Linked DNA regions of Homo sapiens: region 1 is linked to region 2. The links come from fine-mapping of genetic effects on gene expression. A gene starts in region 2. The other region holds a variant in brackets. All regions are shown on one strand. Distances are from middle to middle.

Region 1 (16,158 bases), 53 kb after region 2:
CCTCCTGCATAGGGGTGATGGGCTCCTGCCAGTCATAATTGTGATATATAAACCATACCCCAGCCAAGGTGGGCTTTCCAGGTCCATTGAGTCACCAATTGAAACCAAGTCCATCTTCATCCTAGGAAGTTGGCACTGAGTCTTCGAGCAGCTGCATGTGTGACTGGAACTGAAGCACAAAAGCTCAGCGACTGTGGGACAGACATATTGTGTCACATGAAGAGAGGAACAATTGATAAACAGAGTAAAACAAAACTAGTGGACAGGGAGAGGTGAGGAGATTGAAAGAGGGCACCAAGAAATGTAATTGCAGTGCATCATTGCATTAAACTGGGAAGAGCCTTATGAATCAACTCTTCCTTGGATCTGGAAAGCATGTTGTTCATTATCTGCCAGCACCTATAAAAGAGAAATGAGTAGAACCTGCTCATTCATCAGTTGAATTGCTGTGCTACTTTCTCCAAGGTTCCTTTACAAGCCTAGTACTTACTCCCTAAACAGTGTTTGACAAAAGTGGGTGTGCACACCATCTGAATTGATTCCCTCCCCGCCACCTGCCACTGCAGAGTTCTTATAGTCCCAGCATGCTCCAAACCCTGAGAATAGCTAAATTATGATAGTTATATTGCTTTTCATATCAGCCTTCTAATAATCTTTTTCTTTTCCTTTTTTTCTTTTCTTTTTTTTTTTTTTTTTGAGACAAAATTTTGCTCTGTCACCCAGGCTGGAATGCAGTGGTACGACTTCGGCTCACTGCAATCTCAGTCTCCTAGGATCAAGCGATTCTCATACGTCAGCCTCCCGAGTAGCTGGGATTACAGGCATGCGCCACCACGCCCAGCTAATTTTTTGTATTTTTAGTAGAGATGGGGTTTCGCCATTTTGGCCAAGCTGGTCTCGACCTCCTGACCTCAAGTGATCTGACCACCTTGGCCTCCCAAAGTGCTGGGATTACAGGCATGAGCTACCACACCCAGCCTTTTTCTATTTAAAGGATAAAAACCTATCCCTTTTTGTAGGAAACACAAAAAACACTTCACTCACATATAACATGTCACACATACCCTTGCAGTGGGAGAATGTCTAGAGGCAACCAAGGATTCCATCCACTGGAGCCCCACGCTATTCATCACATTTCCATCTACCCATTGTCTCTCCAAGTTAATTCTCCCAGTTAATAACTGATATTGTACAGATTGTTAAAATTGATTCTAAGCAATGTCCACTCTGGAAAGGAAATGTGTTATATATGGAGAAAGAGATGAATCAGTTTGCAAATTCCCAACTCATCGAGTATCAGATAAATGAAAATGCTGAGACTTTGGAGTTGCAAAAGCCTGGATTTTGAGCCTCAAAATGTGCAAAATATATTCCATGTTCTGATTATCTATTGCTGCATAAAACATTACACCAAAATTCAGTAGCTTAAAACAGTCATTTAAATTTGCTCACAATTTCGTGGTTTGGGAATTGGGAAGGGCTCGGCTGAGTGATTCTTGCCTCAGGTCTTTCATGAAGTGTCAGTCAGATGTTGACTGGAACAGGAACCAACCGAAGGCTTGTGTGTGCTGAGCATCTGAGAGGCTTCCTCATAGGCTGGCAATGGATGCTGCCTTTTGGCTAAGAGCTCAGCTGGAGCTCTTGACTAAAGTACTCATCTGTGGCCTCTGGACATTGCTTGGGCTTCTCACAGCCATGGTGGCTGGGTCCTGGAGGAAGCATGTGGAGAGTGAGTGTTTAGAGACCAAAGCAGAAACTGCAAGACTTCTTCTGATCTAGCTTCAAAAGTCACACGGTGGTATTGTCATCATACTGTTGGTACTGTTGGTTTTAAGTAAGTCACCAAGGTCAGCCCAGACCCAAGGGGAGGGAATTATACCCCACCTCTCTTTAGGAGAAAGGCCAAAGAATTTACTGCTATTTCCAATCAGCAAGTGCCAAAAACAAATGATTTAGAAGAATTGGTGAACAGTGTAGCTACCCTCTGGAAATGAGGTAGAGGAAGAGAGTTACAGGGGGAAGAAAGAGACTGTAGACACTCAAGTTGATAGGAAACCCTTCTCTTTTCTCACATCAGACTCATCAAATTTTGGAGGAGGCAGATAAGACATGCCAGGCTCCCAGTACAGTTTAGGGTATCTGAGACCATGGGAAACATTGTATTACTTCTTGAAAACTCAGATGACTCACTAGCATTAAGTAGAAATGCCTGGGTGCTGTGCCTAGGCTGATAGGCTTGAGACAGCCTCAGAGCTCTCCTTGTTCCAGCAATGTACAGTTCCAAATGAAACAGACCTGGTGGTGTTAATGAAGTGGGTATTGCAGTCATCTGCAAAGACTATCACCTAGAGACTAGATGGGAATGAGAATGTCTTGGCAGGCTCCTGTGTGGACAGATGTCTGTTGAGGACAGGATAGGAACTTAGATGGAACCCTAGAAAAAATTGAGCATGTGTGTTGGGGAAGAGACCCAACAGATTTAGTTGGGTTAAATTTGGTTTATGTTACCTGATGAAATGGGACTCAAAATAGAAATTAAACTCAGTTTTAGAAATATATTTGTGAACTGACTCATCTCTCTCTCCACATAGAACACAATGTTTCGCTTTCAGAGTGGACATTGCTTAGAATCAATTTTAATAATCTGTAAAATATCAATTAAAAAAAGAAAATAAGCCACACAACAAATGCATTTATATCATAGGGAGCAGAGGGAATATTGTCTTGTTTTGTATTCAAAAGTCTGTTCTTCACAACAAAACTCAGTTTTAGAAATATACAGTCTTGCACACTTGAATTTGTGAACCAATTCGTCTCTCTTTCCATTTATAACACAATGTTTCCTTTCCAGAGTGGACATTGCTTATAATCAATTTTAACAATCTGTACAATATCAATTATAAAAAAAAGTAAGCTGCACAACAAATGCATTTATATTACAAGGAGCAGAGGGAATATTATCTTGTTTTGTATTAAAAAGTCTGTTCTTCACAACGATATCTGAGGCTCTGAGAGATCTGAGTTTTAGAATCCCAGAAAGATGGCCTGAATAAGATTTATTCTGAAAAAGCAAGACTGACAATGTTTGAAGCTTTTCTAAATCTTAAATTCTAAATCCAAGTGTCTAGCTTTATTGCCTGGATTAAATATTTCAAGTCAAAATGTCCTGACTTTTAGGGGCTTTTATTGAGTGTTTCTCTCCTAAAATAAAATGAAGCTAGGTTATGAGTGGGTCATCTTCAAAAAGATGTATTATCATTCTGATAATTTGAAGAACATACAATTATATAAAAGTACAAATCAAAACTAAGTAATTTATATGAAACGACTTCAATTAACCATGTAACCAAAAAAGAGCTACAAAGAATTCAAATAAGCTAAGTGCAACGTCTCAGGCCTGTAATCCCAGCACTTTGGGAGACCAATGCGGGCAGATCACTTGAGCCCAGGACTTTGACACCAGCCTGGCCAACATGGTGAAACCCTGTCTCTACAGAAAAAATACAAAAATTGGCCAGGTGTGGTGGTGAGTGCCAGTAGTCCCAGCTACTAGGGAGGCTGAGGTGGATCACTTGAGCACAGGAGGATCTCTTACGGCAGAGGCTGCAGTAAGCCATAATCACACCACTGTACTCTAGCCTGAGTGTCAGAGTGAGACCCTATCCACTCCCCCCCAAAAAAATTCAAATAAACTCAAAATGAAAGTTTGAAACATGAGAAACAGACTGCTAATTTATTTAGAAATATATTTTTCATAGTGTGTGTTCATATGTCTATTATTCTAAAAATTATTTATACATCTAGAATAGAATGGCAAATCTCTAGCCTATTCATTCAAATTAGTATCTATTATTGATTTGAGGTGAGAGAATAATGAGAGTATTTAGCTATAACTGAATAAATCAGGTTAATTCATTTTAAATCATTTTAGTTGTGATTTTGGCTTTAATGTAAGCTCTCGCTTTATTTTAAGCTTAGGATAAATTGAAAATAATTCTCAGTATCTGTGACTTAAGTTTTAAGCATATAGTAAGCACATTCTAGAATATTTCCTGCATTTTTAACAACTGAACTTTTTGCTTGAGAGAAAGTGGTGACTTCCTCAGTCAAATGGCATCAAACAGAGCTCCAAGCAATCGGTATTAATAGAATATCATCTTGCACCAGCTTTCTCTAGCTCTTTCTTTCCTTTTGTAACTACTTCCAAATCTATCTTTTATTTGAGGGAAATTATTAAAAAAAAGACTCAATAGACTATGAACATCAATCATTTCCCTCTACCTATTTGCAAAAAAGGAGAGATGAGAAGTAATTACTCTGCATTTACCTTGTTCTAACCAGAAGAACTTTAGCAAGCAGGCAAAGCTGCTAAGTAGGTAATTTCACAGCTTTCAAGTGTGCCTCTAAAATAAAAAATCAAAGGCAATAATTCCATCTTTAACAGGTGTAAGAATAAAAGGAATTAAATAGACCAGTAATTACATGCCTTTTAAAATTATGTTTATCCTCAGCCTAGGATTCTGGAAATGTATCATCAGTCATCTTGGCATTATGCCTCCATTCTGCTTTCTACTCAAACTGGCTTTTAGTAATGAGGATTCTTGGGCAATTTCAGAGGAAGAATAAAGACTTTCCATTACATTAAAAAGTCAATCCAGTAAGCTAGCACACAGTACAAGCTCATGGTTCCTTGAATATTGAATACATATTTTCTGGTTTATAGAAAATCTTTATATCCTGCTTGTGATATAAAGTGGGATTTTTTTGCTCCCATGAAGATGGTGCCTCGGCACATACTGGTCTCACTTAGAAAGGTCTGCACTTCACTCTCCTTGCAGGACATTGCTTGGCACTAGTTACTAAATTGTTACCAACAGTGGAAAATAAAGCTTTGTAAAATAATCGGAGATAGCTAGATAAGCAAACAAGTTAGTTTATTTAAACTGTATTGAAAAAAAATTAAGCAAAATCAATTCTTTTTGTAAGAAGTCCCAATGACATGTTACATATTAATCCAATGTTTTAAAATTGTGAATCTTAAATCATGGAACTTCATAATTCAGTGCAATTCAGCCCTTAAACATTTGGTACACGTTTTCTTCATGTATGTGTATGTGTGTGGACCATATGTTTAAGTTCAAACAGGCATCCTTATACTGGAAGCTTCATTTTAAGAAAACTTAACATAAAAATACTAACTTATAAAACATGATATTAGAGGCAATTAACCACATTCACAGGTCTGCTTTTAGTTTTGAAATGATTTGGTGAGTTTAAGGGGGATGCTCTTGGAGTATATTTAAATTGTTCTGTTAAAATGTTTCGATTGACATTTACCTTCTCTGTGAGCTGTATCTGGCAAATAGCAGTCTCAGTTATAGTTATGAGTTAGTAGCTGCCCTGTTTGTGTCAGCATAATTCATTTATTTTAGAAATTTTACCAACATTCTTATTGCTATGGTCTGAATGTTTGTGTCCCCCTAAAATTCATATGTTGAAACCTAATCTCCAAGGTGATGCCATTAAGAAGTGGGGCCTTTGGGAGGTGCCTAGGTCATGAGGACAGAGCCTCATGAATGGAATTAGTGCCTTTAGGGCCATTATAAATGAGGCCCAAGGGAGTTTGCTGGCCCCTTCTACCATGTGAGGACTCAGTAAGAAGGCACTGTCTGATATGGTTTGGCTCTGTGTCCTCACCCAAATCTCATCTTGAATTGTAATCCCCATGTGTCAAGGGAGGGAAGTGATCTGATCATGGGAACAGTTTCCCCCATGCTATTCTCATGATAGTGAGTGAGTTCTCACGATATCTGATGGTTTTATGTGTTTGGTATTTCCTCCGCTTGCACTTCTGTCTCCTGCCACCATGTGAAGAAGGGCCTTGCTTCCCTTTTGCCTTCTGCTGTAATTGTAAGTTTCCTGAGGCCTCCCCAGCCTTGTGAAACTGTGAGTCAATTAAACCTCTTTCCTATATAAATTACCCAGTCTTGGGCAGTATTTTTATAGTGGTGTGAGAACGGACTAATACACCGTCTACGAAGAAACAGGCCCTCACCAGACACCTGCCTGAGCCTTGACCTCGGACTTCTCAGCATCCAGAACTGTGAGAAATTAATTTCTGTTGTTTATAAACACCTCAGTTTACGGCATTTTATTCCAGCCACTGAATGGACTAAGACACTTATCCACTAGACTCCAGAAAAGTAATTTAATTTAGTTTGGCAAATCCACACACTATGACTGATTTTCAGTTTTATCTTCATTCTTTTTTTGGTACAGAAGCAGATGGATTTTTCCTCATAAGTTTCAGTTATGCTTTCAAATAGCTGTAGTGTGGAACCATACCTCCCAAAATACTGTGTCTTCTGGGCAAAATCTGCATGGAAGAGGGCCAGCCTTTGGATTCCCATTTCACCTAGAATAAAATCCATACTCCTTGACGGGACTTACAGCAGTGAGTCATCTACCACCTCCCACCCCCCTCCTCAAGCCACACCTCTGCCCTCTACTCTTCAGCCAAGCTCCAGGGGCTTGGGGTACACAGAGACACTGAGTACTTTCTCTCTTCAAACCTGTGAAAATGCTGGTTCCTTTGCCCCAAAACCTCCCTTCCATCTCTTTGCATACTTAGTTTTCTCTCAATTTTTATGTTTCCCTCACCATCCATCTAAAGTAAAGCTCTCCCCAACTACTCTCTATTATAGTCTGATATGGTTTAGCTCTGTCCCCACCCAAATCTTAAATTGTAGCTCCCATAATTCCCACATGTTGTGGGAAGGACCCGCTGGGAGATAACTGAATCACGGGAGCATTTTTCTCATACTGTTCTCGTGGTAGTGAATACGTCTCACGAAATCTGATGGTTTTATAAAGGGAAACCCCTTTCACTTGGTTCCCATTCTCTCTTGACTGCTGCAGCGTAAGACATGCCTTTAGCCTTCCTCCCTGATTGTGAGGCCTTCCCAGGCATGTGGAACTGTGAGTCTATTAAACCTTTTTCCTCTATAAATTATCCAGGCTTGGGTGTGTCTTTTAATTAGCAGCCTGAGAACAGTCTAATACATAGTCCCTGCTTAATTTTCTTCACATCCCAATCATAGGCTATAATTATTGAGATATTTATCACTCTTTCTTTTTTGTTTGTAGTCTGTCTCCTCCCACTACAATGTGAATTCCTTGAGGTCAAAGGCCTTTGTCCCATCTTGTTCAGCACTGTATCTCTGTCCTAGTGCAACATTTTATAGATTAGAACTAAAAAAATTATTTGCTGAATCAATGGATAAATGGAAAAGGCTCTTGCTAGTGATTCTGAAGACCTGGGTTCTAGGCTGATTCTACCATTGATCAGCTTTGTGTCCTTAGATAAATCTCAACCTCTCTGAACCCCAGTGCTTTCATCTGTAAACTAAAGGGGAGAACTAGAGGTGTTGAGTTTTGATGCTTGATTCTTCCTTCTTTGTTTCCTTACAATACCAGAACAACCAGTATTGAGGGCAACCTTAGAAGAAAGCATGCATGGGTCTTGAGGTAGAACAATAGGCTGAGGATGTATAATAACAGAATTTTAACCAGCTTCAGTGCATCCTCATCTCAGATGCATGAGTCCTGGCTTTCACCTACAATACGTAATAGCCACCTTCCTACTGTGTGAGAGCTGCTTCTCCACCACTACTGCCATCCTCTTCCATATCTTCCCCAATATTAGAATGACAAAACTATCACTTGAGGACGTGGGAGCAGCATGGAAAGAAACACAGATCTACAAAGACCCCTTGTTGGAATGTCCAGTATTTGTGAAGGTGTCATGATGGAGAAGAAGTTGATACAGACTGGCAGAGAGCAGTGGGGAGAACATTTCAAGATAAGGAGTGGAGTGCAATGAGTGGAATAGTGGTCATGCCATTCTGGAGGCACATCCAAGTTGCCCTGCTAAATACTGTGTTCACTACCCAATGTCAGCCTCGGTAATCTTTTCATAGCTTTCTTCACAGGACTGTGCTATGGAGGCAGGAGGGCTGTCCTTAATAACTTGTTATTTATTTCAAGAAAATCCTGGCCTTTTGACATGAAGCAGGACTGGGTGGGATCCATGTGACAACATGTTGGCAAAGAAGATATATAAATCATGAAACTAAGAAAAAATGAGCCACAGGAAAATCTGAGCACTAGTGCTTGGTGAAGGGTGGGAGACTGCGGCAGAAAGTTGCTGATGGAAAGGGAGCTTGGCCTGGTATTTGCAGTATAAAAGTTAAAGATAGACTGAGAAAAGACCTTGAAACTCATAGAACTAAGATGATTAGTTCATTGATTAAGAAATTAAAATTTGGCCGGGCGTGGTGGCTCATGCTTACAATCCCAGTACTTTGGGAGGCTGAGGCTGGAGGATCACGAGGTCAGGAGATCGAGACCATCCTGGCTAACACGGTGAAACCCCGTCTCTACTAAAAATACAAAAAATTAGCCGGGCGTGGTAGCGGGCGCCTGTAGTCCCAGGTACCCGGGAGGCTGAGGCAGGAGAGTGGCGAGAACCTGGGAGGCGGAGCTTGCAGTGAGCCGAGATTGTGCCACTGCACTCCAGCCTGGGCGACAGAGCGAGACTCCATCTCAAAGGAAAAAAAAAAAAGAATTTAAAATTCAAGACTTTGAGAGAGGAAGTAGAGCT[A/G]GAATGCAGACTACTCAAGTTTTGGACGTGAAAAGAAAGAAGGAAATAGCAAAAGGGAAAACTAGCCAAGGATAAAGAACTTTAAAAATTTGTTGTGGAGTGTTTCTTGGTTTCTTCTGAGGAGTGTGGGTGCATGGCTAAGAAGGTTAGGACAGTGGAGGCCTGGGCCTGTTTCTAAGCAGAAGGAAGCCTTCCAAAGGACAGAGGCAGCTGAAGAGACCAGCTGGAGAGCAGAAGGATTGTACAGCTTGCTTATGTACATAATAGATTTGTGATTGTTTATTTGCATCTATTGGTTTTATTACTGTATTAGGGGATATAATTGATACTTTAAAATATATGTGTATTTTATATAATGTATTATATGCAATATATTATATATATATGAAATATTGAGACCAGCCTGGCCAACATGGCAAAACCCCATCTCTACTAAAAATACAAAAAATTAGCTGGGCGTGGTGGTGGGCGCCTGTAATCCCAGCTACTTGGGAGGCTGAGGCAGGAGAATCACTTGAACCTGGGAGAAGGAGGTTGCAGTGAGCTGAGATCAGGCCACTGCACTCCAGTCTGGGCGACAAGAGCGAGACACTGTCTCAAAAAAAAAACAAAGTGTACAGAGTTAAGTGTACAACTGGATAAGTTTTTCAGTTTTGTTTTTGTTTTTGAGACGAGACTCGCTCTGTTGCCTCCAGGCTGGAATGCAGTGGTGTGACCTCAGCTCACTACAACCTCCACCTCCTGAGTCCAAGTGATTCTCATGCCTCAGCCTCCCAAGTAGCTGGGACTACAGGAGTGTGCCACCACACCCAGCTAATTTTTGTATTTTTAGTAGAAATGGGGTTTTACCATGTTGGCCAGGCTGGTCTTGAACTCCTGGCCTCAAGTGATCCGTCTGCTTTGGCTTCCCAAAGTGCTAGGATTACAGGAGTGAGCCACCACACCCAGCCTCAATTGGATAAGTTTTAACACACATATACACCTATGAGACTATCATCATAATCATGATACTGAACTTATTCACATCCTCATGCCCTTTGGAAATCCCTTTCTTCTGCCTGGCCCCATACCACTCATCTGCTTTTTGTCACAATGAGTTAGTTTGCATTTTCTAGAAGTTTATATAATTAGAAGCATACAGCAGGTATTTTGTTTGTTTGGTGTCTTTCACACAGCACAATTATTTCAAAATTCATCTGTGCTTTTTTATGTATTCATTCCTTTTTTTATTGCAAAGTAGTTGAATTCTTTTCCTGTGGCCACTCTAACAAATTACCACAAACTAGGTGGCTTAGACAGCAGAAATTATTCTTGCACATGTCTAGAGGCTAGAAGTCCAGAATCCAGAGGTCAGCAAAGCTGGTTCTTTCTGGAAGCTCTAAGGGAGAATCTGTTCCCAGCCTCTCTCTTGGTTTCTGGTGGCTGCCAGCAATCTTTGGTGTTTCTTGGCTTGTAGCTGCATCGTTAGATTCTGCGTCATAGAAATGGACAGTGGAAAAGGAAATACAGAGAGACTCATGGATTAAGGTGAAGAGGATGAGGGAATAAGAAAGACAAAATGGAATAAATTGGAAGGGGTTAAAAGGAAGTGAGGAGAACTTTGCACCTCTGCCTTTCAGTCAGCATTTTTTAGTTGTTCTTTTGGCAATTTACTCCAACTTGGATTTAAAATTTATGAGAAAAAAAGTCTCTGTTCCAGCAAAGGGATTGCCCAACCTACTGTGTCAGTCTAACGCTGACTCCATGACTGAGCACCAGATGGCGCACTGCCCAGAGCCAAGGGACCTCCCTGGTGGCTGTAAAGAGTTCAGTGCACAGACTCAGCCACTCTTAGGTGACTTTCCACAATTGCAAATGAAACTGAGCTCAGCCTACTCAACCTTCCCTTCCTCTTTTAGATCACTGAGAAAGTCTACTGTCCCAACCATATGCCCTTTTTCGGAGCAAAATTTCTCAAAACGGCTGCCGGTAGCTGCTGTCTCCTCTACCTCACGTCCCATTTTCTCCTCAACCCACTCCAGTCAGGCTTGTGTCCCCATCTTCTCTCCTCGGGTCAGCAGTAGCCTCCGTGGTACCAAATTCAATGTCCACTCTTCCATCCTCTTGCCGGACTGTTGGCCTCATGATGCCACACTTTCTTGGACTTCCTTCTACTTCACTGACCCCTCCTCTTCAGACGCCTTCGCTGGCTCCACCCAGCCTTCTCTTCTCCAACTGCTATCTCCCCCGAGGCGATGTCCTCAGCCCTTCTCTATCATCAGAGGTGTAACTTCCAATACTAGGTCATAAAAGACATTGTAGTTTCCCTCTTGCTTACATACTCCAGGGGAAGTTAGCTGCCATGTCCTGAGGACACTCAAGCAGTCCTACACAGAAGCAGGCATGCCAAAGAAGTGAGATGTATTGCCAACTTTCAGAGAGGAACTGAGGCCTCTGCCAACAGCCATGTGAGTGAGCCATCATGGAAACAGATCCCAGTCAAGCCCTCAGCTGACACAGCCTGTTAGTGACTTGATTGCAGCGTCCTGAGAAATGCTGATTCAGAACCACCCGGCTAAGCTGCTCCCAGATTCCTGACCTTCAGAAATTGTGTGAGATAATAAATATTTATTGCTTTAAGTCCCTAAACTTCGGGGTGAGTTGGTATATAACAATTGATAACTAATACACCCATGCTGGCCTCATCTTTCAATACTTCCTCGCCTTGCTCCCACAACACTAGTGTACCTAAAACACACCCAACTTGTTCCTGACCAACACCCTGTCTCATTGTTCCCTCTGACTAAGACCCTCGCTCACTGGATCTTCTGGTTCCTGTCATTCAGGACTTAGTCTTTCCTGGCATTCTCTGTGCCTAAAACAATTCAGGGAACAAAGTAGGTGCTCTATAAACTTTTATTGAATAGAACTATGAATAAAATACTTTAAACAGTATTTATTGGAACCATAATCCTTGAGAAGATTTTGTCAATTTCTGAGGTTAAAGTCTAATTTTTCTGCTAGGTATACTTAGCTGCCCTGTTGACTTAGAATGTTGCAACTGTATTCAAAGTTTCAAAGGACAAATATATTGAAACAGCTGCTGTGTGCAGAGGGAAGGTGAGTAAAGATTGGAGAAAGGTAGGAGGCAAGGCAGAGCAAAGTCAACACAGATTAAATTTGTGCTGACTCACAGCTGCCTCATCTAAGCAGCTCTAATTGGCAGAATGTTGCTAAAACATATTTGTTCTTCAAGAATATCCCAGAAAACTGGCAAGTCAGTATACCTAATGGCTCAAATATTGACCCAATTCCCCCAGTGCAGAGAAATTAATATCCACTTCAGTTATACACACACACACACACATATATATATAAACTCACTATTAAAATGGCGGATGGTGTAAGTATTAAATACCAAATGTTAATTACTTCTTAACAAAAATCTTCATACTTTTATGTCACAGACTACCCAGGAGTGATAGTCAGAATGTTTAACATCTGGTATGGTAAATATAATATATAAATCTGTATATATACCCAAAATTAAAAATAAATTTCCCTTTATTTTCTAGCTATGCTAAACTATATATAGCATAAAATGGATAACACTTTATAGCAAATCAGTAATAAATTATTGTCATAATGTCCAGTCATTTATAAACTGACCGTGTCTTCAGGGCTACTTAGGTTGACAGTGGATCTCTCTCTATGAAAGCCATCAGCTCCTGTTGGTGCAGACTTTTCCTGCAGCTGTGACTCTCAGTGTTTTCCTAGATCCCTGAACTGCTTTCTGCTCTTGTCTCAATGAAGGCCAGGGAAAGGAGAGCCCCAGAGTGCTTCATCATCCGTTGTAGTAGTTTAACCCTTCCCCAGTTTGTAAATAGGTGATATGGTTTGGCTGTGTCCCCACCGAATTCTCAGCTTGACTTGTAGTTCTCATAATCCGCATGTGTCATGGGAGGGACCATGTGGAGATAATTGGATCATGGGGGCAGTTTCCCCCATTCTGTTATGATAGTGAGTTAGTTCTCACAAGACCTGATGGTTTTATAAGGGGCTTCCCCATTCTCTGGGCATTCATTCTCTCCCTTGCTGCCCGTAAAGAGGTGCCTTCTACCGTGATTGTAAGTTTCCTGAGGCCTGTCCAGCCATGTGAAACTGTGAGTCAATTAAACCTCTTTCCTTTATAAATTACCTAGTCTTGGGTATTTCTTCGTAGCAGCATGAGGTCAGACTAATACAATAGGTATTTCATTAAACTTTCTTCAGCCACTCTTTTTGTTTGTTTGGTTGGTTTTTTTTGAGATGGAGTCTCGCTCTGTCACCCACGCTGGAGTGCAGTGGCACAATCTTGGTTCATTGCAACCTCCACCTCCTGGCTCAAGCGATTCTCTTGCCTCCGCCTCCAGAATAGCTGAGACTAGAGGTGTGCGGCACCATGCCGGGTAATTTTTGTATTTTTAGTAGAGACAGGGTTTTGCCTCGTTGGTCAGGCTGATCTCAAACTCCTAACCTCAACTTATTCACTCGCCTCAGCCTCCCAAAGTGCTGGGATTACAGGCATGAGCGACTGCACCTGGCCTCTTCAGCCACTCTTTTTGAGTGGTCATTTTGCCACCTGCAGGAACTTCTTTAATACAAATTTACATATTGACTCGTAATTCTTTATATGCAAATCTTTTTCCTTGGGGTTAATTATGCACCCCTCAAAGGCTAGGATTATTATACCTTATTCATCTTGTATTCCCAGCAGCAACCATTGTGAGGTAAATCTTACAAGGTTCACTTCAGGATGATAATAATAATAATAAATTATAAAATATCTCTTGTAAACTGGGGAAGGCTGGGTATGATCAGGTTGAAAACTCTATTGCAGAGTGAGAGTATAAGAGTCTACCGTTGGGATATTTATCTGCTGAAGAGGGAGCAGGTAAATGTGCAAAGGGAACTGGGAAACTCTTAGGAAGATATCTTGGAATATCTTGGTTGGTCTGAATTGACCTAACCCTCAGTAGACGTAGAAGACATGAGCCATGAGTCCCATGTCTCTGTCTGTCCTAACACACCTAATTGTGGCAAAGCTCACATTATGAAAATGTGCAATCGGGACCAGTGCCCTGGGTCTAACCCCCTAGATCTTAGATTTTCTGGGGAAGCATAAGTTATGGGCTTAGTACATGGCTGAAGCTAGAAATTGCTCCATCCTCATCTCTCCTGGACAGTGGCATGCCAGAGAAAAATGACTCTATATATCCACCTACATTTTGAGATCCCAGGCCTGAGGGATAGCAGGGAGGGAGACTTCCTCTTTCTTCTTGTGAAGGGACAGAGAATGAAGATTCTGGGACTCATGTGGACAAATTGTGGCCAGTGTTTCAACCAAACCGCCTCAGATCATGAAGTCTATGGGACAACAGGAACTCCATGTGGCAGATAGCAGCAGAGACTGATAGAATTTTCTACTGGTGTCAGGGCTACTTGACTCCTTGAATGGAATAAGCCCCTAGGTTGTTGGATTTAATGTGGGTATTAATTAATTAGGAGGCCAGTAGGCTGAGATGTCCCCAGTGCCTTGAGTCTTATGTAAGCAAGCTAAAGCTCAACTCAGCATGAAGGTCATATCCTAGGAAAACAAGAAACTTAAACTTAACCTATCAGAAACTGCCAACTAACTTCTAACTAGTGACTTTTCACCTTAACCAAGCAAATATTTTCTTTGTTTTGCTTCCATAAACACGTTATCAAAGTTCTCCCCTCACACCCCCTCCATGAAGTCCAAATTGCTTGTGGTTTGGCACTGCCCGATTCATGAATGTCTGTCTGCTCAAAATAAACTCTTTAAAATTTTAATGTGCCTACGTTTATCTTTTAACATAGGAAAGAGACTCCCAGAGGGAAAGAATGTTCTTGCTATTCTGAGATGGATGCTTAAGTGACTGAAAATGAATATTTAAAAGCTGTGATTTTATTTTATTGATGCCAGTTTGGCAAAGCAAGTTGTATACTTCCACAGCTCCCTCTTTTCTCAGGACAAAATTCAAACTTCTTGTCATGGCCTTCAAAGTCCTTAGGCCTGCGGGCCTTGTTCCCGGATCCTACCTCATCATCACTCCTGCTACCTCGTGCTTTAATGCTTCACTCAGACTGTCTTCTCTTTCTTTGAATACACCTTGCTCAGTCTCTCTCTTTTACACCATTAACCGTGCTGAGCCTCCATCAGGATTCCACCCCTGCTGCCCAACTATAGCTCTACCTCATAACTGCAACTCGTCTTGCCTGCAAATCTCAAGTCAGATATGACTGCCCTCCCTGAGAATCCACCTCTGACCCATGGAGTCCAGCTGAGGTGGCCTGACCAGGTGCACCCCCAGCATTATCTCATCCCTTAGCATGGAGTTGTGAGTTAAATTTTGTTCCCCAAGAAGAGTATGTTGAGTATGTTCAAGTCCTAACCCCAGATACAAATAAGGTCTCTGGAGGTGTAATCTAGTTAAGATGAAGTCACACTGGATAAGGGTGGCTCCCAATCCAATTCCTGATGTCCTTATAAGGAGATCATTTCTTATTACTACTTATTTTTTCATCCCACCAAACTGAAGGCTGGACTACCCCAAAAGTGGCAGAGGTGAATTCCCACAATTTCATTCTGAGGTGGGCCAGTTGGGATTCCAAAGAAAGAAGCACTAAATGCTAAGTTGATCAGTCCACTGCATTTACTAGGGGAACTTACAGTACTGCAGCAGTCCTCATGACAGATGAAAGAAAAGGCATGTTCTACCTAGAAAAGTCCGCAGTGAGGGGGTCAGGGTATGGAATCCATGTGAAACTTTAAGGAGTTTGGCTCAGAACCAGGACCAGTTTCTTTTTGTATTTGGAGCAACAACCTAGATATCTTTATCAGTGTCTGCAAATGTTCAAGGCCCTGGTTTAGCTTTAAGCCTGCTGGGAAAAACCTGCAGCTGGTTGGGTCATGGAGTGGCCAAGGCACTCTGATTTGCAGTCAGGACACAGAAAGAAAGCAAGGGAACTGGAGGACCCTACAGTCTACCTCTCTGACTGGCTCTTACAATTTCACAGGGCCACCTTTTTTGTGATGTTTCCTAAGCAGGCAGAAAAGGGTGGGATCTCCTATAAGGTCCTTTGCCCCTAAGTTTATGAAACACTGCCAACAAAACCTACACCAACAGTAAATACAGATGCACATGACAAGACCTAAAATCACCAATTCCCAAAAGCCTTACTAAGAGAGCTTTCCACCAAGGACTGCATCCCCCAGACCATGATATAGACCACTAGGAGTCAACCACCCTGTGGCCAATTAGCTGTAATTGCTTTTGTAAATGAGAGAGGAATTTATTAACTTCAGCTTCTTTAGGATGCATACGCAACATTCAGTTTTTAAAAGGGCACAGGTTCTGTGGTCAGTAAAGAACGTCATGTTCTAACAGGTCTGGAAGCTCTGAGTTTATCTTGGGACTTCAAGTGGAGAGGATCACCCAACTCACAGGTATTTG
Region 2 (16,158 bases):
CCAATTTGACCTTAACAGTGAGCGTGTCCCATTGCATTGTTGAGAGGATTTTAGAAGGTTCCTGAGTTGCATATTTTCAAGTATTATCATGCCCTATTTTTCAGTCTAAGCCTTCTCTTGGGACTTTTTCTTTTAAATTAAAAACATTGTTTAAAATGTGTTATCAGAGTAACATTAATGTAATGAGAAGAGGCAACCTTATCAGATAAGATAATCTGTTTTTCCTGAAGGATGCCATTTTCATTGCATTAGGTTGTTTGCTCACAGAGACCTGTAGACACATAGATTAGCCCTGCACATCAAGTCTTCTTTCTCACCAAGCCAATTTCCTGTTTGATTTTTACACTCCAAGAATCACAAGTACAGTAGCAGCTCCATGGGGACAAACAGAATAGGAAAGATTGAGTTATCTTTAATATTTGTTTTTGTTTTTTATTTCCAAGAAAATCTCTTTTAGAAAAGATGAAGTTGTCTTGTCCATATATGCCAGTGAATGCATGTAAATCCATTTACCATAGAGAAGAACACAGTTCTTTTACTGTTAAAGCCAAATAGAAGAGTCAGTAGTCATGTCATCCAAGACAGAGGCTCTTCTGGCCTTCAATGTACAGAGACATGTTGCATTAAATTCAGTTAAGGGCAACCAATGAAAAACAAGCTACACACAAAGATTACCTCTCACCCCATCATGCAAAGTTTCCATTCAGCAACATCTGGAGACTGCACAGCCCATTTGATTTAAATAGAAGACTCAGAGGCAGAAACCATATTCAGCCCAGATTCTTTGTGAACATAGCTTGTTGCTGAACCAATTCACTCTGCTTCTAATTCACAAATCTTCAGCCCTAAGCGGCATCATTTGGTTCTTATGAGGCACAGAGCCCTTTCCCCACCCAGGGCCTTTGCTTGGTCCATTCTCGCTGCCCGCATTGTGGCTCCCCTGGCTCTTGGCCTGCTGGCTCCCTCTCAGACTTCAGGTTTCAATTAAAATAACAGCCCTTCCCACTCTCCTTACTTCAGAGTTAGTCTCTGACATGGCAGTCTGTTGATTTCTAAGTCCTATTCCAGGGCTTGACATCTCATAGTTGCTTGTTGAATTAATAAATGTTAACTCCAAAAAATAATAATAAATGCTTTCTCCAGTTAAAAAAGTAGATATTACACCGTTTTTTAACAGAATAGTAGTGACAAATAACAATTGATCGCCTTAGCTGGGTGTGGCAGTTACAGCTACTTGGGAGGCTAAGATGAGAGGATCACTTGAGCCCAGGAATTTGAGGCCACAGTGAATTATAATCTTGCCACTGCATTCCAGCCTGGGCAACAGCGTGAGATCCTGTCTCTTAAAAAAAGCCCAGAAGAGTATATTTTAGTTAAACATACACATGCCTGTGATCATCAAATACCAAGACTGTAATGATTAGCTCAAGCTGTTGAGAAGCAGAAGCTGCCTTCTAATGGTGACATGCAGGATGCTCAGGCAGAATTTTAAATGGGTGCCACATTGAATACCTGACCACTCTATTTCAGAACTGTTCCTCCTCTGGATGCTTATATGCATTTATTATCTATTCCATTCACCCATCCAATAAGCACTACTACTGCTTTAAGACTCTTATGAACCTCTTCCACTAAAGTTTAAGCTTCTGGATACCAGGGACAACTCTTTTTAATAATAATGGCAAATACTATTGAGTATCTCTTACGTGCTAGTCATAATGTTATGTATTTTCCTGTATTAATGTATGTGGTGGAGCTTTGACTTAAACCCGGACAGAATGACAGCAGAGCCTGCACACCTACACTTTTCTTAAACCTGGATCTGGGCCGGGCACGGTGGCTCACACCTATAATCCCAGCTCTCTGGGAGGCCGAGGTGGGCAGATCACTTGAGGTCAGGAGTTTGAGACCAGCCTGGCCAACATGGTGATACCCCATCTCTACTAAAAATACAAACATTAGCCGGGCGTGGTGGCGAGTGCCTGTAATCCCAGCTACTCGCGAGGCTGAGGCATGAGAATCGCTTGAATCTGGGAGACAGAGGTTGCAGTGAGCTGAGATCGCACCACTGCACTTCAACCTGGGAGACTGAGTGAGACTCCGTTCTCAAAACAAAAACAAAAACAAAAAACAAGCAAAAAGCCTGGATCTGACACTTCTTAGCTGTTTGCATGACCTTTGGTGAGTTGCCTCAGTTTCCACCTCTGTAAGGTAGGGAGGATAGAGTATCTACCTCAAGGGTTGTTGTGAAGATTAAGAGTTGATACTTGTAAAATGCTTAGAATAGTTCCTGGCACACAATAGGTACTCATTAAGTGTTTGTTGTTTGTTGTTGTTGTTATTGTAACCATTATTGCTTATAGGAAAGTCCCTTGTCTGGGAAACCCTCGGTCCTGGTTTTAGCATGGAAAGTCCCATGGCCTTGGTAAAAGTTCAAAACGGGTCCATATGGCAGGCTGAGGACAGAGAGTCAGCCTGGCGCCCTGGTGGTCACTCTCCACTGTCCTGCATCTTTTTCAGAGCTCACCTCTGAAAAACTGCCCCTTACTCTTTGTAATTGCCACCCTCCCAGTATTTCAGGACACTGTACTACTTAGCCAACAGGGTGTACAGAAATCATATACCTTTTTCGCACATTCTTCTATGTACTAAGCTTGTCCAACCCGCCTTATTCTGTTGTCGTTGTTGTTCTGTTTTGTTTTGTTTTAGGCTTTTAGCAGCCTGAAGCCGTGGTTTTTAGTTTCTGTCTCTAATGAAGCTGAAAAGAGGGATGAGGAAGGGGCTTTACTGGCCCAGCCAGAAACAGAAACTAAGAACCTGTGACTGTATTCAGTCTCTTTAACATCCCAGATTGTAGACCATCACTCTAGTTTCCCCACTTCCTGTTAACTTTTATAACTATCTCTGAACTTTAACAGAACACTATTTTGTGTTTGCAAATAACGTGCTAAAACGCCTTTCCTAGCCGAATCAAACCCTAGCATCTAGTGCCCCCTGCTGCCCTTTCATAGGAAAGGCAAGAAGGATGAAAGTTTGATTCACTGACAGTAAAATTTTTACTTGTCGAGATTTCAATAGGAATCGGTATAAATATCCTAAATTATATTCACGTTTCATCTTTTCTTTGAACCTACTCCTTGACTTGGTTTTTTGTCTTGCCTTTGCGAACATTCATTTTTGCTTAATTATATTTTTCTCATTTATATTTGCTTTCCTTGAATTTCCTTTTGGTTGTTTTGCTATTGCTATTTGAACTTGTTTTGTCTTGGCTCTTTCTCACTTTGGCCATGCCTTGACACAGACGCGCGGGGTCGAGAGGCTGCGGGCTCGGCGGGCGGAGGGCGCATGGGAGCCTCTTGGCCCTGGACCTGCCCCTGCAATCCTTCCGCGGGATCTCTTGGACCCTCTCCAGGGTCCTGGCTCTGAGACGTTGCTAGAGGACAAATCCGCGGGATTTAGAGCGCGGCCAATGGGACAGCGGTGCCTGGCTGAGTGTCAGGCAAAACTAGCCAATAAACATGTAGTTTGGGCAAGGTGGGTCCGTCCCCTAACTCGGACCTTATAAAGCGCGCCCGCTGCTCCCACAAAGCCGGGCTGTCCCAGGCTGAGGCGGTTGCTCCCCTGCCGGGTGTGTTAGAAGCAAGTTAGAGGAAGAAGGTCTTGGGGACTACGGGCGCCACCGAGAACCCATACGAGGCAGCCGCCGACGGCGGGTCGCCGGGGCGGGGCCAGAACGGCGCCAAGGCCAACCAGAACGGCGGCAAGAACTAGGGGGACGCGGGGCAGGTGCTGTGGGAGTTGGCTGGACCTGTGGGATCGACGTCTGCGCCGTCCAGGAGCCGCCCAGGGGAGAGAGCGGAGACTCGGGAGGAGGATGTGCGCTCCGACCCGGGCAAGGCTTCCCATCCCTCCCTTCCTCTTCTCTCCTTCCCTCCACCTGGGCTCGGAGTCAGGATCTGACCGCGGGCTCTGCCCAGGAAGACCGAGTTCCTTGAGAGCGACACCTAAGCGCCGGGGAAGACAGGGATAGAAGAGACGACAGCCCTTTGATAAGAGGGTTTTTAGACTAACTTCCACCTGTGACGAGTGCATGGGGCCTGCGCCCTGAGAGGTTGCCTTTCCTTTTCCTCTCCCACCCTGGGGGTTTGTGGTGATGTTAAGTTCTGTTAGGACCAAGGTGGATCTCAGTAAGGAGGTAGAGTAGATTTGTGAACAGCTGTCGGAGGTAGAATCTTTGCAGACCCAGAGTGGGTGGGTGTAGACACTTTGCCATGGGTGGTAGCTTTATTTGTAATCCTCCCAGTGAAAGCTTTGGGAAATCCAGCCCTCCCAAACTCTTGCCTTTCTTGTAAGACTTTCTAAGCGCATGGCTTTGTCGTAAGACTTCTCGTGGCCATGTGTCTCACCCTACCGTTCGTCTCACCAATGAACCAGAGCTGGGATACCAGCAAAAAGGACCCAAAAGACTGTTTCACCACAATTGAAGAGGTCGTGGACCATCCCCCAAAATGAATCCCAACACTGGAAGACCAAGAGGGTTGACGTTTGCTATCTTGAAAGCTGCAGCCCCCGTAGAGAAGGTAAGCTGTGTATTCCATCAAAGGTCTGTGTGTGCAGGATTGCATTTCCAAGAGAAGGCATTCCTGGATCATGATCATTTTGTCTGAGCTGCATGTGGCCAAGTGCACTGGGGGAAGCAGAGTTTAGGAACTTGTTCCTGTATGGATTAAGTGGGAAGTGAAAAGTATTAAATATATGGGCGGGAGTGGTCCAGGAAGGGGAGAGTGGACATTTAGTACCTGTTTGGGCCCCTGCACTAAATGCTTCACATATAAGGATTAGAAAAACACCCAAAGATTCTTAGATAAGCATTTCAGTGCCATTTTACAGAAGGAAAAACTAAGATGCAGAGAGGATTAAGCAACTAGAAGAGACCACATAGTGAGTAAAGCGTGGAACAGCAAGGATTCCAACCCTGTAGCGCAGCTTTATGTCTGGAGGAAGCAAGTCTTAGACTGGGACTGTCAGGCCAGGAAGAAAACTCAGAGCATGGACAAAAGGTTCAGAGGGAGTGAGGACCGATTTATATGTGTTGAGGTAAACCAGGTGGATTTCTGTTTTGGAGAAAATTGGGAAGTCAGGCTTAGGTAGAGGGTGGTGTGTTTGGAGGGGATAAAATATTTTGTGCACCTGTAGTTTGTGTATTCCACCTGTGGTAGAATCTTGTGGCTCAGAAAGAAAGAACCTGCCTCGGGTAATGCTACTAAGAAATGCCAAACAGAATTAGAACCAGAGTCTACTTAACCCCCTTCTCAGAAGAAATTGTCCAGGTTTTAGCACTGAAAGTCTTACATCTTGGGAAACTGAACCGTCCCAGTTTTAATGCTAAAAGTCCCTCATCCTGGGAAATCCCTTAGCTGTGGTTTTAGCACTGACAGTCCTGCTTCCTAGGAAACTCCTTACTTCTGGTTTTAGCCCTGAAAGTCCCCAAACCCCTTAGTCCTTGGCAAATCTGGATGATTGATCCACTTACCCTTCTGTTGGAACAGATCCTAGAGCAGAAGGAGCACAGGCTGGGCTGCCATAGCATGGACCCCCAAAAAGCCACTGTCATGAAGAAATATCCTGTGAAGAAAATCTTTGCAGGGCACCTGAACTCCCAAAGCCACTGAGGAGAAGGTAAGGGAGTACTTTGGTGAGTTTGGGGAGGTGAATTTCTCCCCAGGATATGGTTTATGCTCCCCACCAGCCACCAGTGGATGCTTTTTTCTGTTTTCCTTGGCTGGTGGAGTTGTCAGTGGAGCTGCTCTCACCTCCTTTCTTGCCTTTGGAGGGCCGCCTTTTCTGAGTTCCCTTTAGGGCCTGAGCCAGGGGAAGGCATTGGCCCTGAGCTTTGCCTGTGTTTCCAGATGGAGGCCATTGAACTTTCAGTGGATCCAAAGTCTAACAAAAGACAATGTCTTGTTTTCGTCACCCCCCAAAGAAGAGGAACCTGTGAGAAATATTCTGGAGAAATTTAACACCATCAGTGGAAGCAAGGTGAGGAGTCTCTACCTCCATGTGCCTCCCCTCCTGCCTCTGGAGAGGTAGCCCTTTGGTTAATGGCAACCCAATAGGGTAACCAACCATCCCATTTTAGCATTGAGAGCATTGTGTCCTGGGAGACCCTTCCCTGGAATGTAAATAATCCTGGTTTTAGCAACAAAGTGTGGAAGGTTGGAGGAAATGCACAAAACCCGTAAGTTTTAGAGGGTCTGAAAGCAACATTGTCTATCAAATGGATACGGCACAGATTATTCATCTTTACTTGTTGTCACCCATTTGACCACTGATACTGGCAACCATAATTTGTAGTTCAGAATGGTCATCCATCCATCGTTGCATCATTCAAAGTGATGTGGCTTAAGTGTATATAATGATTATTAATAGTTCATCTTCGACTTTGCCTGTGGATTAATTGGTGTGCTTTGTAACAAGATAGTGCTAGTTTAATTTTTTAACATTGTGAATATTGTGACCATGTTTTCTAAGAGGTCAGATAATGAGAATGGTTATAATACCAATGCAACCATGACCCCATCACTGAAGAAGAAGGCTAAACGACTATGTAATTTTGATGATGGATGGAAGGACACATACTACTGAACTAGGAAGGTAAATAACCAAAACAGAGCATACTACATAATATACAGAAAAAAATTTGAGATTGGACATGGTGGAGAAGGGGATGTGCAAGCACATATGGAGGGCAAATCTCACAAGTAAGATGGGACAGGTGAATGCTTCTAAACCAATCAAAAATACCTTTGTTTCCCCAAAAGACACCAATGCTCAGTCAAAAATAGCAGCTGCTGAATTAGCATGGGCATACCAGGCAAATAAGCCTGCATTGTCATAGCGTTCCCTTGATTGCTCTATGAAACTGAGTAAAGTTTCATTTCCTGATTCAAGAATTGCAGCTAAAATATCCTCTGGACAAAGAAGAAGGGAAATTTTTTGATAACAGATGTGTTGGCTCCTTACAGTATAAAGCCAATTTCTGTCATATCTCACCAACAATCCTGGTTTCTACAGTACATCAATTTTAAGTAATATGCCAAATCATGGCAGCAAAAATATGTTCCCTCTAGCTGTTAGGTACTTTGACTTGAAAACAGGAGTTTCAAATCATCTTCTTCATTTCTGTGAGGATTTTAATGAAACTGCTGAAATCATAAAATATTGTTGATATTTTGTCTAAATACAAACTAGACTTAGCTCATCTATCTGTGTATTCGTCAGACAGTATAGATGTAAAATTTTGGCAAATTGCATTCAGTCTACAAACTTCTTACCAAAGAAAATGAAAAGATCTTATCCATTCAATGCCTTGTACATCTTATATACAACACTGCTAAAAAGGGATGTGAGTTGCTTAAATGTGACATTGAGACTTTCATAATGAAAGCTTTTGGTTACTTTTCAATTTCCTCAAAAAGTGCAAAAGCACTTATGGAGATTTTTGACTTCACAGAAATGGAAGGTAACCTCTTTAGACGTGTGCCTGCAAGATGGCTGTCATTGTAAGTGAGCCATAGAAACGATGCTAAAATGTTGGCCTGCCATAAGATCATATTTTCAAAGGACAAGAATAATGTCCTTTGACATTGTTTGAAATCTGAAAGGAGAAAAAAATCAAGAATCTGAAGTGGGCCTTAAAAAAATCAGTAAGTCCCTTGTGACTCTGATTTTTATGAATCTGTCTCTCAAAAGCCAGGGTGCCCCCAGAAGAACTGAGACAAACTGAGTTTCTGAACATTTGAAAATGAGGAGCAGGCTCAGGATCCACAGGGTGTAACCATCCCGTGAGGCCCTGCCTGAGCAGCCAGCCAGTCAGTGAGGCTCTTCACCTTACTTCCATTTCTCTGATTCCATCTATGTACAACTTACGAAAACTTGCATTATTATAGACTGGGAGTTCTTAAATTGGAATCTGTGAATCTAAAGGGGCCAGAGGATAGAAATCAGGAAATCTGAAAACTTCGATGGAAAAAAGTTTTTATTTATTTCCATCAGGAAAATAGGCAACAAACCACAGCAGTATTAGTACCTGTGTCTCTGTCATCACTAGGAATCACAGATATCCACGTTACAGATATCTTAAAATATTTATGTACAGCACCACTCTGAAATTATGGTAATAATTAGATCCACCCCCTAGGTCTTGTAATCTTTAATATGTTAATAAAGAAGCACATCTATTATGTGACAGATTTAAATGTTTAAGAATTTGATTTCAATGAAATTGCATTTCAATAAAATTGGCTTCCTTTGCAATCCTGTGTATTTTATTTTGTGCATTTCTCCAGACTGCCAAAGAGGTTGGTGACACATTGAAAGTTAAGAGTCTCTGCTGTGGATCATGCATAGAAAGCTTTACAAAACAGTTGAGGGGAATAGGCTTTCCTGCATCCTTACCTTGGGCTGCAGCCTTTCCATTAGCTGGAGAAGGCAGCAGCTGGTGCCTATGAGTTGAGAGGGCAGTGGTCCCTTTGCCTAAGAACCATCCTGTTCCCACATATTCAAGGGTATGGAATTCCCATAATATTCAAAGAGTTTTTCTTTAGTTTTAGGTGATACGCCTTGAGTAGGAATATCATGAGGCTGTTTCCAGCTTCGAGTATGTTGGTGATAGGGTGTAAGGGATCTCAGAGCATCTAGTCTTGTCCATATCTTAAATCCAGGCACTGAGGTCCAGAGGGGAGTTATTTACCCAGGTCACATCAGATGAAGATAATGAAGTATTCCAAGAGGATTTTAGTTTTATTCCAAATAGGGTAAGTGTTCTGAGAGTGTGAGGAGAGAAGGTGAGGAGGCTGGGGTAAGGATGGGCATAGAAGGGGATGGAAAGGAGGGCTGAGAGAACTCAGAACCAAATTTCAGGCTATCACTTTCTCCACGCCACATTCCAGTGCCTTGCCATCAACTCTTCTGTGAATCTTCAGGAATTTTATTAATTCCCCAGGACCAACTTAGACTTTCATAAGTTAGATGTAGTTATATTACTTCCCTGAAGCACTTTTATGCACAAAGAATAGATGTAGCAAACAAACTTCACAAGATTTAATTTTTGAGTTTCCTTTTTTATTCTGAGGAATTCCGCTGTAATTCTCAGTGACACAGAACCTCTAGAGCTACTTCACTATGACAACCTTCTTCAAATCTCCAAAGGGCTGTTACATAAGGAAGAGGGTCGGAGTTCTGTATTCAATCAAGAAGGCAGAAGATTGAGATGATAAGTTGCTACAGGGAGGCATAATTTAAAGTCAATTTAAACTGTAATCCCAGCACTTTGGGAGGCAGAGGCGGGAGGATTGCTTTGAGCTCAGGAATTCAAGACCATCCTGGGCAACACAGTGAAACCCCGTCTCTACAAAAAAAAAATAGTCGGGTGAGGTGGCACACACCTGTAATCCCAGCTACTTGGGAGGTTGAGGCTGGAGAATCGCTTGAACCCAGGAGGCAGGAGGCAGAGGTTGCAGTGAGACGGGATGGTGCCACTGCACTCCAGCCTGGGCGACCGACTGAGATCCTGTATTTAAAAAAAAAATAAGGTCAGTTTAAGTTTCGTTCCTGGGATTGAGCGGATTGCCTTGCATTAGGCAAGGTTTTAAGTGCTTTCCAACTCTGGAATTCTATACCTTTCCCAGTAGATATCTAAACCCAGCAAATCCTGGGCCTGAAGTTTAAAACTAGGATCCTCGTCTCCCAACCACATCTAGATGATCCCATAGTGTAATGAAGGGTGCTTGGGCTTTGACACCAGGCAAACTTGGATTTTGACCTGGGACAACTAAGTCACTTGACCTCACTGAACCTTAGCTCCCTCCACTGACAGTGGGGACAGTCTGCTGGAGGGTGTGTAGAAGACCTCGGGTTGCCTTTTGGAGGTTCTGGAAATGTCCCTTGAAAGATGAATGGAGTTAATTTAAAAATCTTCGCCTTCTGTAATTTTGGCTTCTTGCAAACACGCTTCCTGCCAGTCCTGCTCCGTCAGGCGGGAGGCAGCAAACCCCAGCCCTGGCTCCAGGACAGGGCCGAAGGCAGGATAGACGGAGCAACGGGTCCGGCTGCCGCCGGGATGTTGCAGCACAGGGCCTCCTGGCTGCCTGGCCTACAGGCCGCCCGGATTCAGCCGGAGGGCATGGACCGGGTGGAGTCCTGCAAGGCGAGAAGGGACACAGCGCATGCGCGCGGCAGGGAGGGCGTTTCCAGGAGGGAGCGGCCTTTGCTCAGCGCGAGACGGCTGGGCGCCGAGTGGGACAGCGCTGGTGCGGAGACTGCTTCCGGACTCCAGGTACCGCGCTTGGCGGCAGCTGGCCCCAGACTTCTGTCTTTTCAGCTGCAGTGAAGGCTCGGGGCTGCAGGTGAGCTGTGCATCCCGCAATGGAGACCTTCCTGCTCTGAATTTTCTTACAAAACTGCAGAAATATAAGGGGCGTTGCTTAGCGGGCATCCCCTCCCCCGCGCCAAACCTGTACAGCAAACGATGATGCAGAGGACCTTGAGGGGATTTTGCAGGGCATCGGTCTTACCTCCGCGGTATCATTTTTCTCCTCCTCCCGAGTTTCTGCCTTCTGGTATCCCTAAATATCCCACCTATCCTGCCTCCTACCTTCCTGGATCTGGGGTGGTGGGGTGGGCTCATGGACCATTGCAAAATGCTTGGCAGGATTTTAACCTTCTCAGCACCACCCAGACCCCACTCGAAAATGTGCCTTTTGTGCCCTCCAAGAGCTCAAGGGTAGGTAATTGTTATATCTTTAGCATGTGAAAATGCTTTTTATGTAACAGTTCACCGAAAATCTCTTAATTCTCCGAATTTTGGAGGATTTGGGGCGGGCAGCGAGGCTGTCCCCTGTCACCTTGTTTTGTACCTGGTATGGTAAATCGTTTTGCTGCATTGCATCCAAGATGCGTTTTAGTCCTTCCAAGGCTTGAGCATCACATTTGTGATGAGAGCGTGTGATGTGCTGTGCACATCCTCTCCCACCTTATCCCTTCCATGTTAACACAGCCTCTGGCTTTAATGTGTGCTTCTGGCCTGGCCACATGGCTCCGTCATGGAATAGGTGATTCTTTTGTCTGAATATTCTCTGTGAGAACAGAATCTTCTTGCAAGCATTGGGAGTAGATTTATTTTGCCTCTTTAGAACAACAGTCAGTTCGCTAAGGAGATTAAGGGGCTACCTGTTTCCTGGCAATAAAGCTGTATTGGGTAGGTCAGTTACAGAATGTCTTCAGGCAGAAGCTGTTCCTTTGGTTCACTCACTCATTTATTCATTTAACAAGTATTTTAAGTACCTGCCTTGTGCATGGCAGGGTTCTTGGTGCTGTGAGGAGGACAAAGATAAACTGAACCTTGGTTTGCCCTCAAGGAGCTTGGCTGGCTGAGAGTTGAGAGAATCCCAACCAAGTAAAAGGGTATGGGTCCTCAAGAGAAGATCGCAGGAAGAGCTGGGGGGCTCAGGATGGAGTGGAATTAATCTTTCACAACAGCTACTTAGCTTTAGGAGAAAATTAGGTCTAGAAGTTACACCTGATAATGAAAGAACTCTCATAAGCTTCAGATCTGTATGTAAGGGTGTTTTCCGGACTGTGTGTTGGGCGTCTCAGACTGAATACATTCTAAACAGGTCCCATCATTCCTAGCCACCTCCCTCTTCCCACCGCCACACACCTGCTGCTGTTCCCATGTTCTCTGTCTCAGGGAATAGCATGAGGCTCCCCGACTCCCTACTTCTCCTAATGGTCTAAGCCAGATACCTAGGGGTGAGTCATCTCTGATTCACCCCTGACTTTCCCTTCCCGCCTCAAATTCAATTCTGATTCTACCTCCTGAACTTCTGAAATCTGTCCACCTTCTCTCCATTCTCATTGCCATTTCTCTAGATAAGCCTACCGTTATCAACTAAGCTCTTGCTTACTTTACTGCAACAGCTTCCCGATTTATCTCCCTGCCTCACTTCACAACCCATCTTCACTACTGCAACTGGGAAGTGCTTGCTGGAATTTAAATCTGATTGTGAGGCTCCCTTCAGTGATCCTTCATTGCCCTTAGGACGGAACCAGACTCCCTTTACGGGGCTTATGTGGGTGTACAGCCCTGTCTTTCTCACCAGCACCCTCTCTTTTCACAAGCCCCTTGCACTTTTCATTTTGAGAACATGCTTTCTTGTGCCATTAGGGCCTTGCACATGCGCTCCCTTCTGCCAGGAACACCCTTCCCTGCACCCTCTTCACTTGACTTATTCATGCTCCCCTGTAGGGTAAATGCACCTGACAGCAATAATTAAAGCATACCCTTAGAATGACCCTGTGTGGCAGATGAACCTGAATGTGTTTTCTGAACTAGGGAACCCAGGCCTGCCCAACCCAGAGATTTATTTCTTGTCTATGAAGAACATCTGAGCCCCTGCCCCACCTGTCCCATAGAACAGGGGCCATACGGGGAATTGAGGCCTTGAATTTTGAGTTAAATCAAGTTGCCAGGTAGAGGTCATTGAGGGGAGGGTGTTAAGTGAAAATGCTGCATAAATTGCATGATGTTTGCAAGCGGTTGTTTTCCTGCCCAGCTCACCACCACTGGACTCCCTCCTCTGTTTGTAAGCCCCTAATGGGTCTCTTTTGGCCTCTTGAACCTGTTGCCTTCCTTATTGAGGTTAATAGGGGTTTGGCACAACATCTCTCCAAGGTCCCAGCTGGGACCCTGTTTGATCTGGGCATCCTTAGGCTCCCAGTCCTTGCTGGGTGCCACTCCTTGTTATGGTACCCACACCTCTCCTCTTAGGGCTCATTCACACATCTGCCTCCTACAGCTGTGTTGTACTATAGTTCCTGGAGGACCAAGGCCATGTCTTAGCACTTACCATTGCTTCCTGCTGCCTTGCCTAAAGAAAATGCTAAATAAATAGCTGTTAAGTCGAATTGACTACAAATATATGTTATAATACTATGGTATGATTCATTAACTAAATTACAAATTCACCCTACCTCAGTTTTCTCAGTGTGCTGAAATAGTAATAGCCTTACACATGTCAAGCTTAAAATAGGTGTAAGGGTGAATGAGAAGAGTAATCATTGGAGCAGCTAATATTTGTTGAGTGCTCAGTATGTGCAGGCACTGTTCTAAGTGCTTTACAGTATTAAATCATTTAATTCTCAGAACAATCCTATAAGGTAGATATTTTTGTTATCCCTATTTTAAAGATGGAGAAACTGAGTTATTGAGGTTCCACAGCTAGTAAGTGGTGGTATCAGGTTTGAAGATAAGCATACTTTATAGCATATGGTTAGCTCCTTTAGAAAGATAATAAGTAGGATCAAACATGAGAAGTTCATGGGGCTGAACATTGTAAGTTACCAGATGGAACACAGTGCCCTGTGGTCACAACTTTAAGCTATGAAGAGCATGTGATTGATCCAGAATTGAAAACTCTGAAGAACATGTTTGGTTTACATGTTCGCTTTTTTTCAGCAGCTAACTCAGTTATCAGAGGTGATGTTGCATAGAGGTTAGGACTGAGACTTCCCTAAGTCAGAGATCTTTGTTTTGCTGTATAACCTTCAGGCATTGCTTGCATTCTCTGTGTGCCACTTTCCTCATCTGGAAAATGAGGATAATCATGACAGTACATACCATAGGGTGTGGTCATGATTACATGAGTTGATACACATAAGGCACCTAGAATGCCTTAGAATGGCACCTAGCACATAGTAATTGCTCAAAAACATTATAACCTCTTTATTATTATTATTTGTTTAGCCATCATTCAGTCAGCAAATGGTTTTTGGACCCAGGTTCTCCCTACATGCTACATCCTACTGTACCACTTCTCGGCCACAGATGAGCTCTCCTGTTTTAATTCTCCTTCCTGCAGATGATGAGCATTTTTCAGTGTTGCCTCCTTTTTGGTGCTGTCATCTCCTGTGCCTCAGCTTCCCTCCCCCATACCCTTCCTCATAGTAAGTTCTAGTGGATGACTCTGAGATCAGCTCAAAATTCTTCTTCTTTTTTTTTTTTTTTTTTTTTGAGACGCCCAGGCTGGAGTGCAGTGGCACGATCACAGTTGATTGCAACCTCTGCCTCGCAGGTTCAAGGGATTTTCCGGTCTCAGCCTCCTGAGTAGCTGGGATTACAGACATGCACCACCATGCCACGTCCGGGTAATTTGTTGTATATTTAGTAGAGAAGGGGTTTCACCATGTTGACTGGGCTGGTCTCAAACTCCTGACCTGAAGTGATCCACCAGCCTCTGCCTTCCAAAGTGCTGGGATTACAGGCGTGAGCTACCTCGCCTGGCCCCTTTTTATGTTCTACATTAATTTATTACCAATTGATAATGGGAGATAAAAGGCCCATTAACCTAAATGATAAGCAATGAGAAAATTGTAAAAATATGCAAGGAATCTCACTTACCATTCCTCACATTTACAAAGATAATTACCTTCCCTGTGGAAGAAATATAGACGTGAGAAAGCTCAGAAATAAAGGCACCACTAGGGGTCTTAGAACTTAAAAAGCTGTAAAGAACTCCAGAACTCTTTTCATCTATTCTCCTAACTTGCAGGGAGAGTTGAGGGTGAGGGAGGGGCATGGTCTGAGGCCCAGTGGCCACATCTCTAGCCTGTGGCTGGCACGCTATCTACTGCATCTGAGAGAATTGTGGGCAGGGTTTCAGTGGAACTTCTCACCACTGGGTATGTTTCAGCTGCTGCTATGATGCACAGTAGGATGTCATTGTCATCCATTTAACTTCATGCTGGGGCTATATTGTATTCTTTAGTGATTTGCCATTGATTAAGTGTGGATGTCTCTGCTACCACAGAAGAGCTATCTTGCAAGGAAACTAATGACAAAGCCATTGTTTAAACTGAATTAGTCAATCTCCAAGAAGACATCCATCTGTAAAGAATGAGAGGACTAATATCTGTACAGACATGAAAGAATTATAAGATGGAATTGTGGAAGTTAAGGAATTTAGAGGAGGAAGAAGGCATTTGCTCCAGATCACTTTGATAGTACAGACTAGAGTCAAGGAAATTAGGAGGTAATTAATAAGGGTAGAAGTCAGGGGAGAAGGTTTAAAGGGAGGTGGCATACAGGGGATAGTCGGGCTTTTGGAGGTGGACAGGGAGGGAGGACATTTCAGGCATGGAAGTGAAAAGTGAAGATTGTAGTGTCACAGTTCAGTGAAGAGACCTGGCTGACCAGAGCAGAAGTTTTATTTGGGTAAGTGGAAAGAATTGAACAGCTGAGAGTATGGCAGATCTTGAAGACAGGCAGAGGAGAATCAGCTTGAGGTACCCCCCAGAGTGTGCTTAACAGTGATGAGGATGAAGGGGAAAGTAGAGGGTTGGGAGAGGTGAAGTTTGAACCTCTTTTTTCCCTTGAGACAGGGTGTCACTCTGTCATCCAGGCTGGAGTGCAGTGGCACAATCACGGCTCATTGCAACCTCAACCTCCAGGGCTCAAGCAATCCTCCCAACTCAGCATCCTGAGTAGCTGGGATCACACGTGCATGCCATCACACCCAGCTAATTTTTTGTATTTTTACTAGAGATGGGGTTTTGCCATGTTGATCAGGTTGGTCTCAAATTCCTGGGTTTAAGCCATCTACCTGCCTTGGTCTTCCCAAGTACTAGGATTACAGGCGTGAGCACCATGCCTGGCCGAACTTCCCTTTCTTTAGTAGACTAGAGAAATTAATTTCTGTAATTCTGTGGAATGTCTTTGTATTAGTCATTCTCACACTGCTCTAAATAACTACCTGAGACTCGGTAATTTATGAAGAAAAGAGGTTTAATCAACTCAACTTCCGCAGGCTGTACAGGAGGCGTGGCTGGAGAAGCCTCAGGAAACTTATAATCATGGTGGAAGGCAAAGGGGAAGCAAGCATGTCTTCACATGGCGACAGGAGGGGGAGAGCACGTGAAGGGGGAAGTGCTACACGCTTTCAAACATCCAGATCTTGTGAGAACTTTAGATCATGGAACAGCACTAGGGGGATGTTGCTAAACCATTAGCAGCCACCCCCGTGATCCAGTCACCTCCCACCAGGCCCCACCTCCAACACTCAGGATCACAATTCAACATGAAATTTGGGTGGGGACACACAG

What was found. PIP is the estimated chance that this variant, and not a neighbour inherited with it, causes the effect.
Region 1: its variant is fine-mapped to the expression of TMEM14A in aorta (GTEx, PIP above 0.99).

Annotation. Positions count from the first base shown.
Region 1 is chr6:52,714,191-52,730,348 of GRCh38, forward strand. No RefSeq gene overlaps it. Among named protein-coding and RNA genes, the nearest start is that of GSTA2, 41 kb to the right of the region's middle. RefSeq lists silencers at 8,253-8,367, 10,416-10,465. The variant A/G (reference allele first, on the strand shown) is at 8,663.
Region 2 is chr6:52,660,840-52,676,997 of GRCh38, forward strand. It overlaps TMEM14A (transmembrane protein 14A), which reads left to right and starts at 10,274. Exons shown (of 5, transcript NM_014051.4): 1 at 10,274-10,406. It overlaps LOC730101 (a long non-coding RNA gene), which reads left to right and starts at 3,562. Exons shown (of 3, transcript NR_024405.1): 1 at 3,562-4,580; 2 at 5,550-5,679; 3 at 5,910-8,314. RefSeq lists enhancers at 2,321-2,420, 3,352-3,646, 4,018-4,137, 9,490-9,990, 9,979-10,138 and 1 more and a silencer at 3,352-3,646.